2 separate regions of the Homo sapiens genome follow, and region 2 is linked to region 1. A link means that fine-mapping ties the variant in region 1 to the expression of a gene that starts in the linked region. Tissue or cell type: whole blood. Region 1 holds a variant in brackets; the other region holds the start of a gene. All regions are shown on one strand. Distances are from middle to middle.

The links. PIP is the estimated chance that this variant, and not a neighbour inherited with it, causes the effect.
Region 2: it holds the start of DLEU7, and the variant in region 1 is fine-mapped to the expression of DLEU7 in whole blood (TOPMed, PIP above 0.99).

The regions. Positions count from the first base shown.
Region 1 is chr13:50,704,841-50,712,947 of GRCh38, reverse strand. It overlaps a transcript of DLEU7 not described here. Among named protein-coding and RNA genes, the nearest start is that of DLEU7-AS1, 99 kb to the left of the region's middle. The variant G/C (reference allele first, on the strand shown) is at 4,662.
Region 2 is chr13:50,839,516-50,847,622 of GRCh38, reverse strand. It overlaps DLEU7 (deleted in lymphocytic leukemia 7), which reads left to right and starts at 3,931. Exons shown (of 2, transcript NM_001306135.2): 1 at 3,931-4,435. The coding sequence starts at 3,977. DLEU7-AS1 (DLEU7 antisense RNA 1) reads right to left here. Exons shown (of 5, transcript NR_046551.1): 4 at 7,529-7,595. RefSeq lists an enhancer at 4,075-5,001.

The DNA.
Region 1 (8,107 bases):
TAGAGCCGCTTCCATTAAGAAGATCGTGACAAATTCCCTACCCCTGTTTGCTCTTCAGGAAAATTATCCCCTGGAAAAGTGGATGTTATAGTCGCTTTTCAGAATGTATTGTCTGAATTTCTTGTCTTCCAACATTCTCCTAAGCCAGTTACCTTTGCACTGAAGTAGAATTCAAAAGGAGATAGAGGTTCTGAATTTCTTCCTTTGACCAGATGGAAGTCGTTACATCAGAATGCTGATGACTGCAAAATCTTGGACATATTGTTTTCACAATTAGGAAATGGCAAACACAAAGTTCTTCAGTGCAAAGCCAGCATGCGAGTTCAGCTTCCATTTGCTGCTATAAATTTTGTTCTTGTTGCTGCCAGTAAACACCAACTGTTCAAGTGAAATAGTAAATCCAAATGTGCCTGTTGGATGAGAGTAAAAAAATTATATGCTGCATAAATGCTGATGCAAAAGGATTTTTCAACACACTAAACCAGGGTAGGGAAAGGAACCGAGAAAGAAAGTTGAACTGAATGCAGCTCTCACTAACAACTTCTTGGTAAAAGCACTAAAAAAGCTCTTGATAGAATGTTGATTCAACATACTGTTTAAACCTCAAGGAAAAAAACAAACGCAGAATTGGGATATTGGCCTTAGGATATCTGCTTAAAGTCCTACTTTGAGCTCTCATCAGGGTTACCAAAGAAGGCGTACATAGATTGTTACAAATCAAAGCAAAGAAAAATCCCAAAGTTCCCTCAAAACTGATGTGGGCACTTGGCCCAGAAGTTGTTTGCTAATGATCAGTCTAACAGCTGAAAGTCAAAGTCAGTGGCTAGTACCATCTGCAATAGGATTTAGGAAGTTTTGATCTCACAAATTTACTGTAAGGCTAATCAATGAATGTTTGTACTCAGGTCTCCCTACAGTTAAATTTAATGTGTAACTGGAATTACGATTCAAAGAGATAGTTTCATAAATGGTCCCTGAAATTTAATTTTGGATTACCTAAGTTTACAATGGATTTCTCTTCTCCTTTCCCCAATATTTTTCTTACGCAGAAAAAAAAAAAAAAAATCCTGTGTGACCTTGGAGCTGGCTGCCCTGAGTCCCAGGCTCTGATTTGATTCTGATGCTCCAGAGCCTGCTTTCTCATGTAGGTATAGGTAGTAATGCCCCCCGCCCCCGCCACTGGGTCATTGTGAGGGTTAAACAAGATAATACTTGTTAAATGCCTGGCACAGCCCTTGCACATAAAATGTCCTTAATAATATTAATTCCCCTTCCAGATTAGACTTTGCAAACAAATGATTGAAAAACAGAACATTCACGTGGATTGGATTCTCTAGCGTGATAAGGCTCCAGGCCAAGAACCATGCAGTAAAGATCTTCCAAACCAAAGTATTTCAGCATCTGAGAATGGCTAGGGCTTATCTTCATGGCTAAAATAAGCATTTTAATATAAAGCAGGCTTTTTTCTTCATTTTCTTATGGAAAGGAAAGCATTTTCAGAATAATGGTTAAAATCTGTCCTTTGTAGATCTGAAAATGTGAGCAAGTTTCATACCGAAGTCAAGATCTACTGAAAGTGTTAGATGAATATATAAGGACCAGACGCTGCTGTCAAAAATAAAACAGATGCTGGTGTCTTGAATGCCTCCATGTGCCAAAGCTGAGTTCTTTGACTTATTTTTGTCATTGAATTAATTGGTATATCTGGTTTAATTGGCCAAATTGTTTTTGCTTAAATGTTCACATTTTCATTGTTATATTGATATACTCAATATTTTTGAGGGTACAGAAAATACCAATATTGGCAAATTTGGTATTTTTGCCAATTTTGTGTGTTCAGAAGAAAAATTGTTCATTTCCAGATCCCAGATTTATGGAAATTTAAAAATATATAGTAAAGTGTTGGTTTCTCCTTATGGTTACATCTGAATGTATATAAATTATCAGAGTCTGTGTGCATTTATTTCCATAGAAAATAATACCAGCAGAGACACAGCCAAACCAAGTTGAACCTTGCTGAGTGGATTTGAAGAAACACAGGCCAACTCAGGGCAAGGCAAACCCAAGAGATAGAAAGTCTAAAATAGTAATAATCAGCCTTTGAAACATTTTCCCTTGAAAAAGGCATCTCAGTCCCATCCTATATTTACAGACCAGAAGAGACACACATGTGTTCTACGTATGACACAGAAAGTAAAACCAAAAGGCTCATTCTGAATGCCCAGTCCAGCTTGAATTGAAACCTTTGTGAAAAAGTAGTGCTTTTGATTCAAAGGAGCTCAGGTTTGAAAGGGAGATGTGAAGTCTAACATCCCATCTATCTGATGCCTGGTCTTCCTTTACACAGTTCTGGCAAAGATGCCAACCAATTGATACTTGAACATCTATAGAAATGAGCAACTCATGCCCTAGAGAAGAACACTCTGCCTTTGAATAATATTATTAGAAAATGTGTTCTTATTTTGGACCAAGGCCTATTTCTCTGTAACTGCCACTTATGGCTTCTATTTCTATCACTCAGGGGTCACAGGCAGGCAGAATTCCATTTCCAGTGACAATTAGTCTTACAAACATTAAGGCAAAGCTCACAAATTAGCCCACATAGTATTTTAGATAATTGTAAATTAGCTACTAACATTTGAAAATTAGAAAACTACCCACAGAAATTTGTATTTTCAACTAACGAAATTGCTGATTCTCTGAAAGCAATGGGCCACATTCCCAAATGGTAAAACTAGTACCCCCTTATCCACAGTTTCACTTTCTGCAGTTTGAGCTACCTGTGATCAACCATAGTCTGAAAATATTAAGTGGAAAGTGCCAGAAATAAACAATGTATATGGTTTAAATTGCACACTGTTCTGGGTAATGAAATCTCTGAGTCCCACTCTGTGTTGCCTGGGATGTGAATCACCCCTTTGTTCAGCATAGATGCTACCTGCCCATTGGTCACTTAGTAGCTGTCTCAGTTATTAGATGGAAAAAAAAGCCATAGTATATATAGAGTTCTGTATTACCCATGGTTTCAGGCATCCACTGGGAGGGGAGTGTCTTGGAATATATCTCGGTAGATAAAGGGATACTACTGTACTTGGCTGAGCTGAGTAGCTGCTGCCACTTTCAGACAGGGAATGTGCTGGCCTTTTTGCCACAGTCCTCACTACTCCCTATTACTGTGCACTGAGCCTGCTTTCCTCATTTTCTGATACTTAACTGGCCTCTGAGACATTTGCCCTTCTAGTTCTTACTGTGTCCTCTCTAAGGCTTCTTTGCTTCAGGAGATTTATCCTCACTTTCTCACTCTTCCCCTCTGCAAGAAAAACCTCATGCATGCCTGAAGCCTAGACCTGCTGAATGACAGTGCACCTAGAAAACTGACAACTGATTCATCCAATCTCACAATCAATCCTCAGAAATGTGCTGGGGTAAATATATAGCTATAGACCTTAGAATCATTTTAGATAGCATAAGGGTAGGATGTGGAGGTTGTAAAAAACCTGTGCACATGGAACAAAATAGCTTCTCATGCCTGCTAAAGGCCTAATTCCAGATAGTTGTTATTATTTGCAGCTGTAAATCCTCATAAGCACTCAAATCAGTACCTACAACCAAGAGCACGCTATGAGGTTTTCTGCTTTGTTTAGTTGCCTCTATGATGTTTAATGCCTTCGGTATTAAAGAAAATCTCACTCAGCCAGTGTCTGTTGGTGACTTACTACCAGTTGCATCATAGTCCTCCATATTCTGGAAAAGTGAAGAGTCCCTGATTTTGAATCCAAGCACCTCCACTGAATAGCTGAATGACCTTGGGGAAATTGTTTAACACCTCTGAGCCTCAGATTCTCCATCTGGAAAATGAGGATAGTAAATAGGTAAGCCCTATTACTATTCTCATGATGTGAGAAATACATGAGACACACATATAGCGCATAGAGCCGCCCTTGGTTCATATTAATCGCTCACTGGTATTCATATATAATTCCTGTACATTATAGCAGACCACTCCCACAGTGCCTCAGCCTTTCCCACATCTGGGCATACAGGATCAACTTCTGAGTGCCAGCACTTGTGAGTCTTGCTGAAAGTTTTCTCCTACACCCAGTTTTTTCAGTCCCTATACACTGTGGCAGGCTGGAAATGTAGGGGAGTTAATAGCCCTCCTCTCTTCCCCCAGGAGTTGCCTCTACCAATGATAAATGGGAGCTGATAAATGAATGCGCCAGCTTCCTCACCCCTCAGAAGAGATAAGTCAGGAATGTGCACTACTTGGTCTTCTAGAGTTCCCCTTAGTGCATTTAGCTCCAGTCGCCCATAGTTGCCAAAGCTTATTTGGCAATGTGCCCTTTATAGACAGCCTTGCTGTCCCTGTCTCCTTTCTTCACACTGTTATTGATATTTCCTGGGGTCAATTACACAATAAACTACTTACACGCAAAAACTTAGCTCAGCATCTGCTTCTGGTGGAACACAAGCTAAGACAGTTGGTACGAGAAGTAATCCTAGGAAGCAGATCTTTAGGATACAGTCTGGAGCTACATCACTTGCTTGACAAGTAGCAATAAGCAAATCCCATTGCTGGTGGTAAGTGGTATGGTGGCAAACCCCAACTTACTGTGGCATTGATGATAGATTTGGATGGGATATAAGTGGCAGGTAATTAT[G/C]CTGTGTACTGTAATATTCACGATGGATTTGGATGGGATATTGATGGATTGGCTTCTGTAATACCACTAGCATTTGAAAGATATTTGAGCACTCACAGAGGGTCTGATTTAGCTTTTTCAGGATCCCACCTAACATTTCCTGGACCAACAGACTTGCTTTCCAGGGAAGGAAGTACTATAATTGACACACAGCGATGGTATTCACTGGTCCTACTCTATACTATATCACCCTAGAGCTAGTCTGGTAGAAAATTTGAATGCTGTTTTAAAGGCACAGCTGGGGTTCCAGCCTGAGAATGCCACTTGCAGTGTTTTGGTGGTGTCATTCAAAATGTGGCATATTGTCTAGATCAATGTTGTTGAGGGTACAATGCCCCCAGCAGGAAGAACTCACGGGTTTAGGAAACAAGGGGTAAGAGGAGGAGTGGCTCCTGACACTATCACTTCCCATGGTCTACTTGGGGAATTTGTCCCCTAGTCTGGTCTGCTGGACCAGAGATTATGGTTTCTAACTGGCAGATGGAGAGCTCTTCTGCCAGCAGACACAGGAAGCACTACATTAGCCCTAAAGCAACAGCTGCCATCTGGTTATTTTGGGTTCCTCATGCCTGTAGAGCAACAGGCAAAAAAAGAAGTTACCTGTTTATCAGGAAGAGATAGAGTAGCTATTATATTATAGAGGCTGGTTCTTAAGGGGATTTGTTGGAATCTCTCTAGGTGTTTTCTTTCCTGGTAGTAACCAAATGGGCAGTTACAGAAACTATGGACTGACAGAGATGAAGGAACTCAGAGGTCTCAGATCCTTCAGACTTTAAGGTCTGGGATCATAAATATTAATTATGACCTAGGAACCAGCTTCTGTGTAGGGACTGTACCCTGGCCCACTAACCTTTCTGCAGTAATTATTTTCCTTTTTTTTTTTTTTTTTGAGATGGAGTCTTGCTCTGGCACGATCTTGGCTCACTGCAACTTCTGCCTCCTGGGTTCAAGTGATTCTCCTGCCTTAGTCTCCGAAGTAGCTGGGACTACAGGCGTGCACCACCGTGCCCGGCTAATTTTTGTATTTTTAATAGAGATGGGGTTTCACCATGTTAGCCAGGCTGATCGTGAACTCCTGACCTCAGGCAATCCGCCCGCCTTGGCCTCCCAAAGTGCTGGGATTACAAGCATGAGCCACTGCACCCAGCCTATTTTCCTTTAAAAAAGTATTGACAGTCACCCCCATTAAGAATCAATGACAAGACAGACTAAACTTAAGTGGGATGTAAGTGGATGAGAACGGACCCATCAGGGACTGTGGCAGATGCTATCAGTGCCTTATTCACATCCCCTCAGCTCCTACTGGCCCAACTTCCAGCACCTTCCAGAATGCACCACCCTAAGGCACTGCCAGAGAGAAACCATAAATATATCACAGTTTTCCCTTTTGCTCACCCTGAGCTCTGGCTGCTATAGTGAAAAATTATCTAGAAGTCATAAACTCAAGTGCTTACTATCCAAACCAGGCCAACAACTTTAGTGAAGCCCATGGAGTCAGATGTAAACCCTGGGTAATGGTCAGAACTGGCTTCTCCAATGGCTCCAGCCCATTGGACACTCAGCCAATACTGCTACAGGAATGATCCAGCCTTCTGATTGCCTTGATATTTCCAGCAACAACCTGATGCCAGCCCTTCACACTCTTGGAGGGGACAGCAGGAAGCTGAATGTCATTGATTGAAGGAAAATACAACCGGGTGAGGTGGCTCAGGCCTGTAATCCCAGCACTTTGGGAAGCCGAGGTGGGAGGATCGCTTAAGCCTAGGAGTTTGAGACCAGCCTAGGCAACACAGCGAGACCTTATCTCTGCAAAAATTAAAAAAAAAAAAAAATTAACCGGGCATGGTGATGCATGTCTGTAGTCTCAGCTACTCAGGACGCTCAGGTGGGAGGATTGCTTGAGCCCAGGACATCGAAGCTGCAGTGAGCCATGATCATGCCATTGCACCCCAGCGTGGATAACAGAGTGAGACCCTATGTCAAAAAAAAAAAAAGGAAGGAAGGAAGAAAGGAAGGAAGAAAGAAAGAGAAAGAAAGAAAGAGAGAAAGAAAGAAAGAAAAGAAAGAAAGAAAGAAAGAAAGAAAAAGAAAATACCCTGAGGTAGCATGGCTCCAAACACCCTAGGGCCACGTCTGGGAGAGTCGGCCTAGGCAGGGTAGATTCTTGCGTGTTTGAAGACAGCTGTTGAGAAGCTGTGAACCAAGCCCAAGGACCCAAACAGACAGGGAGCTGAATCTCATACCAGAACAACCACCACATTTATATGAGAAAAGTTAAATATGGTTATTCTGAATGAAATTTGCAGGTACTTAAAAAAATTATAGCACCAACCTTGCACAGAACATATGGGAAGCTATTCGAGGTAAAGAACCAGTTTTCTCTAACATGAACATGATCTTTTGCTGCACTATCTGGTGCTACTTTGATCTAAAGAGAAGAGCCACAAAGAAGGTAGCTGTACCAGGAATGGGGACTATGGTATGTGAACAGCTGTAATTGTAAAGCTGCCAGCTTCAGTCCAATGGAGAGAGTAATAGTGAATTTCCACTGATGTGTCAGGCTTTATTCTAAGCATTTTACATATAGCAACCAGTTAAATATTTATAACAACCTTATGGTAGAGGTATTATCATCATCCATTTTGTACAAATAAGGAAACTGAGGCACAGAATACTTTAGATTATTTTGCATCCCAATAGCCCACTCCAGAGCCTGGACTCTTAAGACTTCTTTCTGTTCTGCTATTCTCTTTTAATAACAACCCCAATAGAAGAAGGATTGGGCCGGGCATGGTGGCTCATGCCTGTAATCCCAGCACTTTGGGAGGCCAAGGCGGGCGGATTACCTGAAGTCAGGAGTTCAAGACCAGCCTGGCCAACATGGTGAAGCCCCATCTCTACTAAAAATACCAAAAATTAGCCAGGCGTAGTGGCGGGCACCTATAATCCCAGATACTCGGGAGGCTGAGACAGGAGAATCGCTGAGCCCGGGAGGCTGTGATTGCAGTGAGCCGAGATTGTGCCATTGCACTCCAGCCTGGGCAACAAGAGTGAAACTCCGTCTCAAAAAATAATAACAATAAAATAAATAAATAAATAATAAAAAAAGAAGAAGAATTGATTTGGATTCCTTAGTATTGGATGTGTACATGATGCATGGTAGTTGTATTTTTCTCTGTCGTGTGTGTGTGTTTGTGTGTGTGTGTGTGTTGTATCTGCGTTTCTTAGGCAAATTATTAAGCAAAAGACTCAGTTTAGTCTGAAGCTAGCTGATCAGACACATAACCGAATATCAGGAGGCTTAATCAGTGGCACCACTTGCTACTAACTGGCTTTATAGTTAGATCTCAAGTGCTCATTTCCTCATCTATGTAAGAGGGGGTTGGACCAATCACCTTCTCATTTTC
Region 2 (8,107 bases), 130 kb before region 1:
CTTCTCCACGATTCCACATAGGAACCTGCATCTTTTGCTCATGCAGGAAAGGAAACTTTGGATTAACAGAAGTGCCAGAATATTCATTTATCTAACAACACTCTACCTTGCCCATTAACAGGTAGAAAATTGCTTCTCACTTCACTGAGCTTTCTACCCTCTTCTCTTTTCCATCCCACAGGGTGCTGAATGTTTCCAGTGCTCATTTAAAAATGCTCCCATCAGAGTTACCCAAAGAGCTTTTCCCACAATTGTTGAGACTGTAGAAAGGTTAGGTGAATGGCATAAGCACTGCTAGAAGTAGTTGGTTGGAGGGACCTTCTGGCAGTGCCTTGCCTAAGGGGCACTGGGTCACAGGGTCACTCCATGAACATGCCATCTTTCCTATAACATATGTCAGGCTATTTGCTTCAGCTGTGACTCCTTCTGTTGCAGTAGGCAGTAAATCCAATCCAAAGAGGCTTAAGCAAAAAGAGACTTCATCGGCTCGTATAACTGAAAAGCTCAGAGGTGGGGCTGACTTCCTGTGCTGCTAAATGTGGACCTCAAATGCTGCTATACAGCCACGGTTTCTCTCTATACATCTGTTGGCTTTTGTTTCATGAACGTCTTCTCTCCATGAGTGCTGGCTCATTCATAGGCGGGCTGTCCCCATCAAACTCACAAGATGGCTGCAGAGGCTCCAGAACTTGTATCTTCTCAGCTTTACTTGCACAGGGGTCACTGAAGTCAGATATTTGACAGTAGAAAGATCAGCCTCATGAAACTGGACTTGCTGTGTATTGATAAAGAGAAGCAGCCCTGGAAATCTGATATATTCTTTACCTGGAAACCCCTGCAAAATCCTCATTGTTCTCTGTTGCCATTGCTGATGCTTGGTAACAAAACCTTGCTTCATATCAAGTAGTTTTCATCCTCCCTCCACCAATTGCTTTGAGAGAGGCTAGGCTCAGCCCCAACTCCTACACTGAATTCTAGTTCACCTTAGACTCTCATGGTAGCCTCTTTCCTCTTGACTGTGATTAATTAGGCAAGAACATGTGACACAATTCTGGTCAAGGAGATGTGAGAGGAAGCCAGCTGAAGGCTTTTGAGAAGTGTTTCCTTGCTCTTGAGAAGGAATACACAGGAAAAGATGGCCTTTTCTTCTAGTTATTGTTGTCTAGACATGATGCCAGCAGCTGCTAGTAGCCATAGGAGAACTAGCCCAAAAATTAAGGACAAAGCTGATGTGCTGGGAATGGCATGGCAGAAAGAAGGAAGGAACAAAGGGCTTTGATGACACTGAGGAGCTGCTATATTAACCAACTCTGGAGCCACTCTGCCTTTGGACTTCTTGTGATGTGAGACAATAAATTATTCTTATTGATTAAACTATGTTATGTTGAGTTTTCTGGTTTAAAGGGAATTTGATCTTTTGCTGTTTCATCTCTTGGCCTACACTTCTTTTTTGGCCTGTACTCTTTGCATCTGTTGTTTTCTCTTTTACAGTGCATTCAGCTGAAAGCATCCTAAAAGATACTGTCTCATTGGCTCTAGCTGGGTCATGTGCCCATTCCTGACCATGCATGCACTGTGGGGATGTGATGTGTGATGGGACTTAGGCTAGATGATCCAGTACTCTTCTGCAGTGAGATGGGCTCATCCCATCTGACTTCACGGGCAGAGTGTGGAGGAAAAGGCATATCTACTGAGAAATGAGGGTATGATTTCTATAAAATAGTGAAATATATGTTGTGAAACAAACATATCAGATATCTAATACTTTGTCCTTTTGAATGTGCCCTTTATTACAGAATGGCCTCAAATCGTGAGTACAGTGGGTAAGAAGTAGGCTATCTGTTACTTCGTCTGGTAGCCCAGCAAACGTAACTACGGAGGTGTTTTAGACCAAAGGTAGATCTGCTATGCTATTGACTCATCTAAATAGACTATGAAAATTTTTCCTGAGTTAGGCTCTCATATCTCTAGCTTTGGAACACAAGCCATTTTGAGATCATAGCAAAACACAGTGCGACCCACAGCCAAAACAGACAAAACACTCAGTTGCCAGATGATCCAGGGCTTCCTAAGAATACTAGAAAAAGCAGGCAGCAATTTAAGCAGCATGTGCCATCCCTCAGGCCCCAAGGTTTTCTGGCACCCTTCTGTCATGCCCCCTGAGGTTCAGTTGGTCTCATGGCTCTGACTCAGTGTGGTATGTAGAAGAGTGGGGCCTCAGGTCAGCCTGTGTCTAGTGATTTCAATTCTGCTCTTGGCTGCAATTCCAACTGTCAAGAAAGTTTTGCAGTCAGCCATTTGATAGTGGAAGGGTTAGCCCATGAAACTGAATTTCCTGTGTATCTGGAAAGAGAGGCAGCCCTAGAGATCTGACATGCTCTGTGAAAATTAGGGGTTCATTTTTGCTATTGCTGGTTAGTCTCTGCTGAACCTAATATATTTCAACATTTGAAGACTTTTTTTAAAAAGAAAATTTTTTTCTTTCTATTTTTTATTATGAACTTAAGTAACTTCATGGCAAAAAAATCTAATCAACATTAAACTATTTACTTCCCTCCAAAGTAATTTCCTCTCTGTCAATGCACAGACGTGCATTTTTACTTAGTTATAATTAGTGTGAACATACTCGTTTTTGTTTAAGAAAGGTTTTCTTTACCTTGGCATTCAGATTCGTTTTCATAGGCGAAGAAAGCACTGGGAAGGAGAAGGAACCTTTGCTGGCAAGTTGGGAGGATTATATGGGGTCATACTATCCCAGGGTTAAGGAAACCTTAAAGGACCCAACATCCCTCTCCATATCTCTTCTGATGATCCTTTTGTGCTCACAGACTAACCAGTGTGGCCTTTTCACTCAAAAGCCTCTCCAGATCTGCACAGCACCAAGGGTGCAGTCTGGCTCCCAAAGGAGTAATGCAATTCCATCCTCAGGTCTGCCAGGGCCCACCTGTCTGTCGTGGGCATGCACCATTGCCCTGGCTTTACTGGGCTGTTGGGTTGTCTAGTGGTTTTCCTTGCAGAAAGCAAGCAGGAACAATGCTGCTCCGGACTGGTTTTCCATACCACTCCTCTCAAATATCTTCTATTTTCTTAAGTGTGATCACACACCCATGGTTTCCAATCTATCAAAGCATAACATTGCTAGTCGCTTTTTTCTAAGTTAAGGAAGTAGCCATGTTGGGTTTAATTAAAAACAGCAACTATTTGTACAGCTGTCCCTAAGTTCATGGCTCATAAAAGGATTAACTTCAACCTTGCTGCCTAAGTCTTTTGGGAGTGTCACAAAAAAACATTTAGGCTTTTCTGGGCAGTGCCAGGCCTGGGCCTTGAGGCTTGCTGATGCTAGTTCAGCCACCAGGCTCTCGGTGCTCAAGTGGCACCCAGCAAAGCAGAGAAGAGCAGAACTTCCAGATACACAACTCCTCCTTCTTTTGTTTGGGGGATGCAAGGCCTTGAAGGCTGCTTCAACAAGTTTCTGAAAATTCCCCTCGGGTTGGGAAAGGCACAGTCTTCCTTTTGCAAGTTTTTCTAGAGCCCTTCGTACTTTTGCCCTAGAGTGGGTCTTTTGCACCCCCACCTCCCAGACCTCAGTGGTCATTGGCAGGCATCCTTCGAAGGAGGTGGGGGCGGGGTATCCCCGCCGATGGATGCGCCCGCACAAAGCAGCACGTTTTCTCATCAAAGCCCTGGAGAGAGGGAAGAAGCAACGCTCAGCATTTCGCTGATTTTCAAGTGCACACCGAGCAGCGCTTCAGGCAGCTTTGGGTCAGAACACGCCTGATTCGGACTTCAGGCGAAGGCAGAGGCCAGCACGGGTCACCGATTCAGAGCCGGGGGCGGGGCCGACCACACACGCTGTGAGACCCAGAGGCCGAGGAGCCGCGGGTTAGAAAATGTGACCTTGGCGACCCCAACGCCCCCGCCTCCCTCGCTGCTGCTCCACCTGCACGCGGAGCGCGCCGGGCCGCCAGCGGAGGCGATGGCCAGCCCTGCGCCCTTAGTGGCCTCCATCAGCCACCAAATGGTGGCTCTGCAGACCTTGCAGCTGCTGCAGCAGGAGTGGGGCTGGGGGGACGGTCCAGTCGCCCCCGGGAACCCGCGGGACCCAGACCACGTGTCCACCGCTCCAGCCCGTCGCTCAGGCCCGCCGCGGGCCCGGCCGGGGCCCGGGCGCGAGGAGCGGGGCGGGGGCGTGGGGACCAGGAGTCGGCGGACCGCGGCGCGGGCGAACTCCCCAGAGGAGGAGGTAGTGCGAGGCGCTGAGGGGGGCGCCGAGTTGCTGCCCTTCCCCCGGGACCGCGGGCCCTGCACCCTGGCCCAGATGGCGATGCGCAGCGCGCTGGCCCGCGTGGTGGACTCGACTTCGGAGCTGGTCAGCGTGGAGCAGACGCTGCTGGGGCCCCTCCAGCAGGAGCGGTCCTTTCCCATTCACCTGAAGGTGAGTCTGGCCCCCGCCATCCCCTCTGGCGTGCAGGGTAACCTCCCATCCTCCAAGGGTGGGGCTGCTGGGATGGCGATGGGTGGATCGCAGGATCCCAAACACTGCTGCCCACTGTGATTCAGCCCCAGTGGGAGAAGGAAGGGGGCGGGGGACACTCTGGGGACTCAGCAGGAGGGGCAGGGAGCCCCAGACCCACCTGAGGCCCGCCTGGCTGGCACAACCGAGATGTGGGGACTGCCTTGCCAAAACCTCCCCCTGGAACTCCTTCCTCTCTCACATAAATCAGCTTCCTGCGCTAGAAAGGCCCTTTCCACACGTGCAGCTTGTAGGGATAGAGGACAGCTCCCCCCACCCACTTTCCAAATTAATAACGCTTCCTCCAGAGCCTTAAATACACTTACTAAGTCCCTTCTGCCTTTTGTATGATGAAATCATCTACATTTATTTAAAGTTCCTTCACATTCATGAATCACTATTATTTTTTGCATAAATCCAATTCCCCACAGAGCTAAGGGGTCTTACAGAGTCAACCTACATTCTCATAAAGTGGGGTGAGAGCTGGGTGGGTCCCGGGTGTTAAAGCGTGAATACTAAATGCTAAACTCTTGCTAAGTCACCCAGCTCATATAGGTAGGGCACATTTCCTCTTAAGGTACCAAACTGTGTTAGCCAATTTAGCCCGGGAAGGGAGCAGCTGTCTCCCAGGCTGAGTGAGATTGCGGAAATCTGGGGGTCTGGGTTTCAGTCCTGGACTTGCCATTAACTAACCTAATTGGTTTAAGGTCACGAATCTCTCTGAGACATTCTGGCTTTCAGATTTTGACCAGGAGCATTGCTGTATTTTATTTCCCTGGGGCATCTAGCAGAAGGAGTTGGGGAGGGGTGATGAGGAGAGCTTAGAATATGTCTCAAGAGTTGCTATTCTGTACAAGCCAAGGTTTGGAAAAAGTTGCTATACATTAAGTTGCACTATACACTGTAAAAGATTTATTTAAAATCAAACATAATAAAGCCTATTATATACCCAAATAGGTATTGTTTCTCTACGTAGGGGTTTCTCAATCTCTGTACTATTCACATTTTGACCTGGCTAATTCTTTGTTGTCGGGGGTTGTCCTGTGTATTAGAGGATGTTTAGCAGCATCTCTCGCCTCTACCTGTTAGATGCCAGCAGCATATTCCTCGCCGCAAGTTGATACAGCCAAAAATGTCTCCAGACACTGCCAAAGGTGGCGGGGGCGGTGGGGTGGGAGGCAAGATGAGAAGCACTCCTACACTCACTTTAGAAAGTTAGAAAATGAAGCTGCATTTCACCAAATGCTCTCCAATGTAAGATGTACTTTTTTTTGGTATCACCAAAATTTTTTTTAATCCTGTCATTGAACTATGATACACCATTGATTATAAGTTACATGCTAATTTAAGGGATTTTTTTTTTTTTTTTTTTGAGACAAGGTCTGCCTGTGTTGCCAAGGCTGCAGTGTGGTAGCCATTCACAGGTGCGATCATAACACTACAGCCTCGAGCCCTGGGCTCAAGTGATCCTCCTGCCTCAGCCTCCTCAGTAGCTGCAACTACAAACCTGTACCACCACATCTGGCTGATTTCAGGGATTTTTAAAAAATGTGAATAAAAGTGCATTTTAAAATAGATGAAATATGAAGTGACTTGTGATGTCAGTAGCACATACAGGGCATAGGTAAGGCTGGCAAAAAGAGAGACTGACAATCAGTTTTACCTAAGGTGACCCTGGAAGGCTTCTCAGAGGAGGCAGCCTTTAAAAAAAAAATACATGTTATTTTCCAGACATTAAAGGGAAAAATATTTCAGGAGAATACTTTGGTTAAGGCCCAGCAGCACTGAAAGGGACTGAGGCTCTAGAGGAACTACAGTTAAGTTCAATATGGCAGAAGGCAAAAACTGATGCTGGAGACACAAATGGGGGCCAGTTAGGGAAAGGCCTGTGTGTCATGCTGAGGACCTTGGATTGTCTTGCAAGCAGAGGGTAGGTAAATCACAGAAGCCTGGATAAATCACAGAAGGGTAGGTTTCAGTTTGAAAGTCAGGTCAGAAGACAGCTGTCTAAGGGCTTGACCCAACTCAGTGGCAATGGACTAAACCCCGTGTCCTCTGCTCTGGAAGCAGTCCACTATAAACTATGCCATTTTAGCTTAATGCCACAGTCACTTCTACTTGGAAATCCTTTTAGCCCTTTCTAATTGACTTTTGATTCTAAACATTTTCCATCCTCCTCAAGCCTTCTTCATCCAAACCTCAACCCGCTCACACCTTTTCTGAGAAAATAGAGGCCAGTGGACAGAAATATCTTTCTACCTAAAAAATTGCATTTCTACTCATCTTCATTTTTGTTTCTAAAATTCAAGTGCTGCCCCCCCATCCCCATGTATATTCATGTTAATTCCACTGGAGCAAATCTTTCACTTGCTCCTGGACCTGTTTCTATCAATTTTCTCTCTCCTTACATTTTCTACCGCCCCCTCTTTGCTGACCCTCTTGGTCCATAACACTCTTTACTTACCCAGCCCTTGAGTCCCCATCCTTCCCTTCCTTGTCATGAGCAAACTTTGAAAACATTTAGATGTACTGCTTCCACTTTCTAGAAGTATACAACTACTGGAGTCTGCTGTTCACCCGCAGGGGGATAATGAGTTTTAGGGCCCCTGGGAACAGCGAGGGCTTTCGAGAGAAGCAGAGAGCAGTTTCTCTGCATGATTTGTTCCCTTGGGAGCACCTAGGAATTTTGCTTGGTTTGCTGTTTGCAGAATAGGTAATATCTCCACTTGGTTTGTAGAGTAATGATTACACAGCACTTAGACTTGAGGAGATGGCATTCTGTCTTTCCAGGGGGCTGGTTATGCAGACTTAGCTTCCTTAATACTAGTGTTAATTCAAATGACTTGGAAGGGTGTTTTGTATATTTTTAAATTGGGAACATACAGATTTTATACAATAGAATGGTTTCAGAAATCCTTGCAGGAGGATTTCCGGGAATGGAAATAACTATTTTGTATCACCTAGAAGTACGTGGGAACCTCCCCAACATCAGATCTCTTTGGTGGTGTTACTTACCACGGAAGGTAGGAGGAAGACTCACTTGAACTAAAGCCCATGGCGCAGATGACAGGCATTAGAGATCCTGCAGTGGAGAGAGCATAGCACAGCAGTCAAGTCCCATGGAGCATTTCAAACCTACTCTTCCACTTCCTGTCATTGGCCCTTGGGTAAGTTATTTAGCCTTTCTGTCCCTCAGTTTCCTCCCTGTATAGTGAGGACAATGGTATCTAACCTAAAGGGTTACTGAGATAATGCATTTAGTCAGTGGCTTCCCAAAGTTAATCTCCATCTATTTGAGCTATTATGATTATCATTATTATTACTGTTAACAGGTTGATGCCTCATGAATTCTTATTGACTGTTATTTTTGTGAATTCTATTCTTGATATTAATGAATATGATCCATGAACTCTGTGTCTGCTTTTCTGGAACTATTGACAAAAACAGACTTAGGATGACCCAAAGAGATTTCCAGGAAGCCTACACTATCTAGAGGTCAGCTTTAGCCTCATGCCTAGTGACAGGCTTAGAGGTGTCACCAGTGAGTGACTCACTGATCAATCCACCAGAAGGTTAAGGCAGTGAAATCTGCAG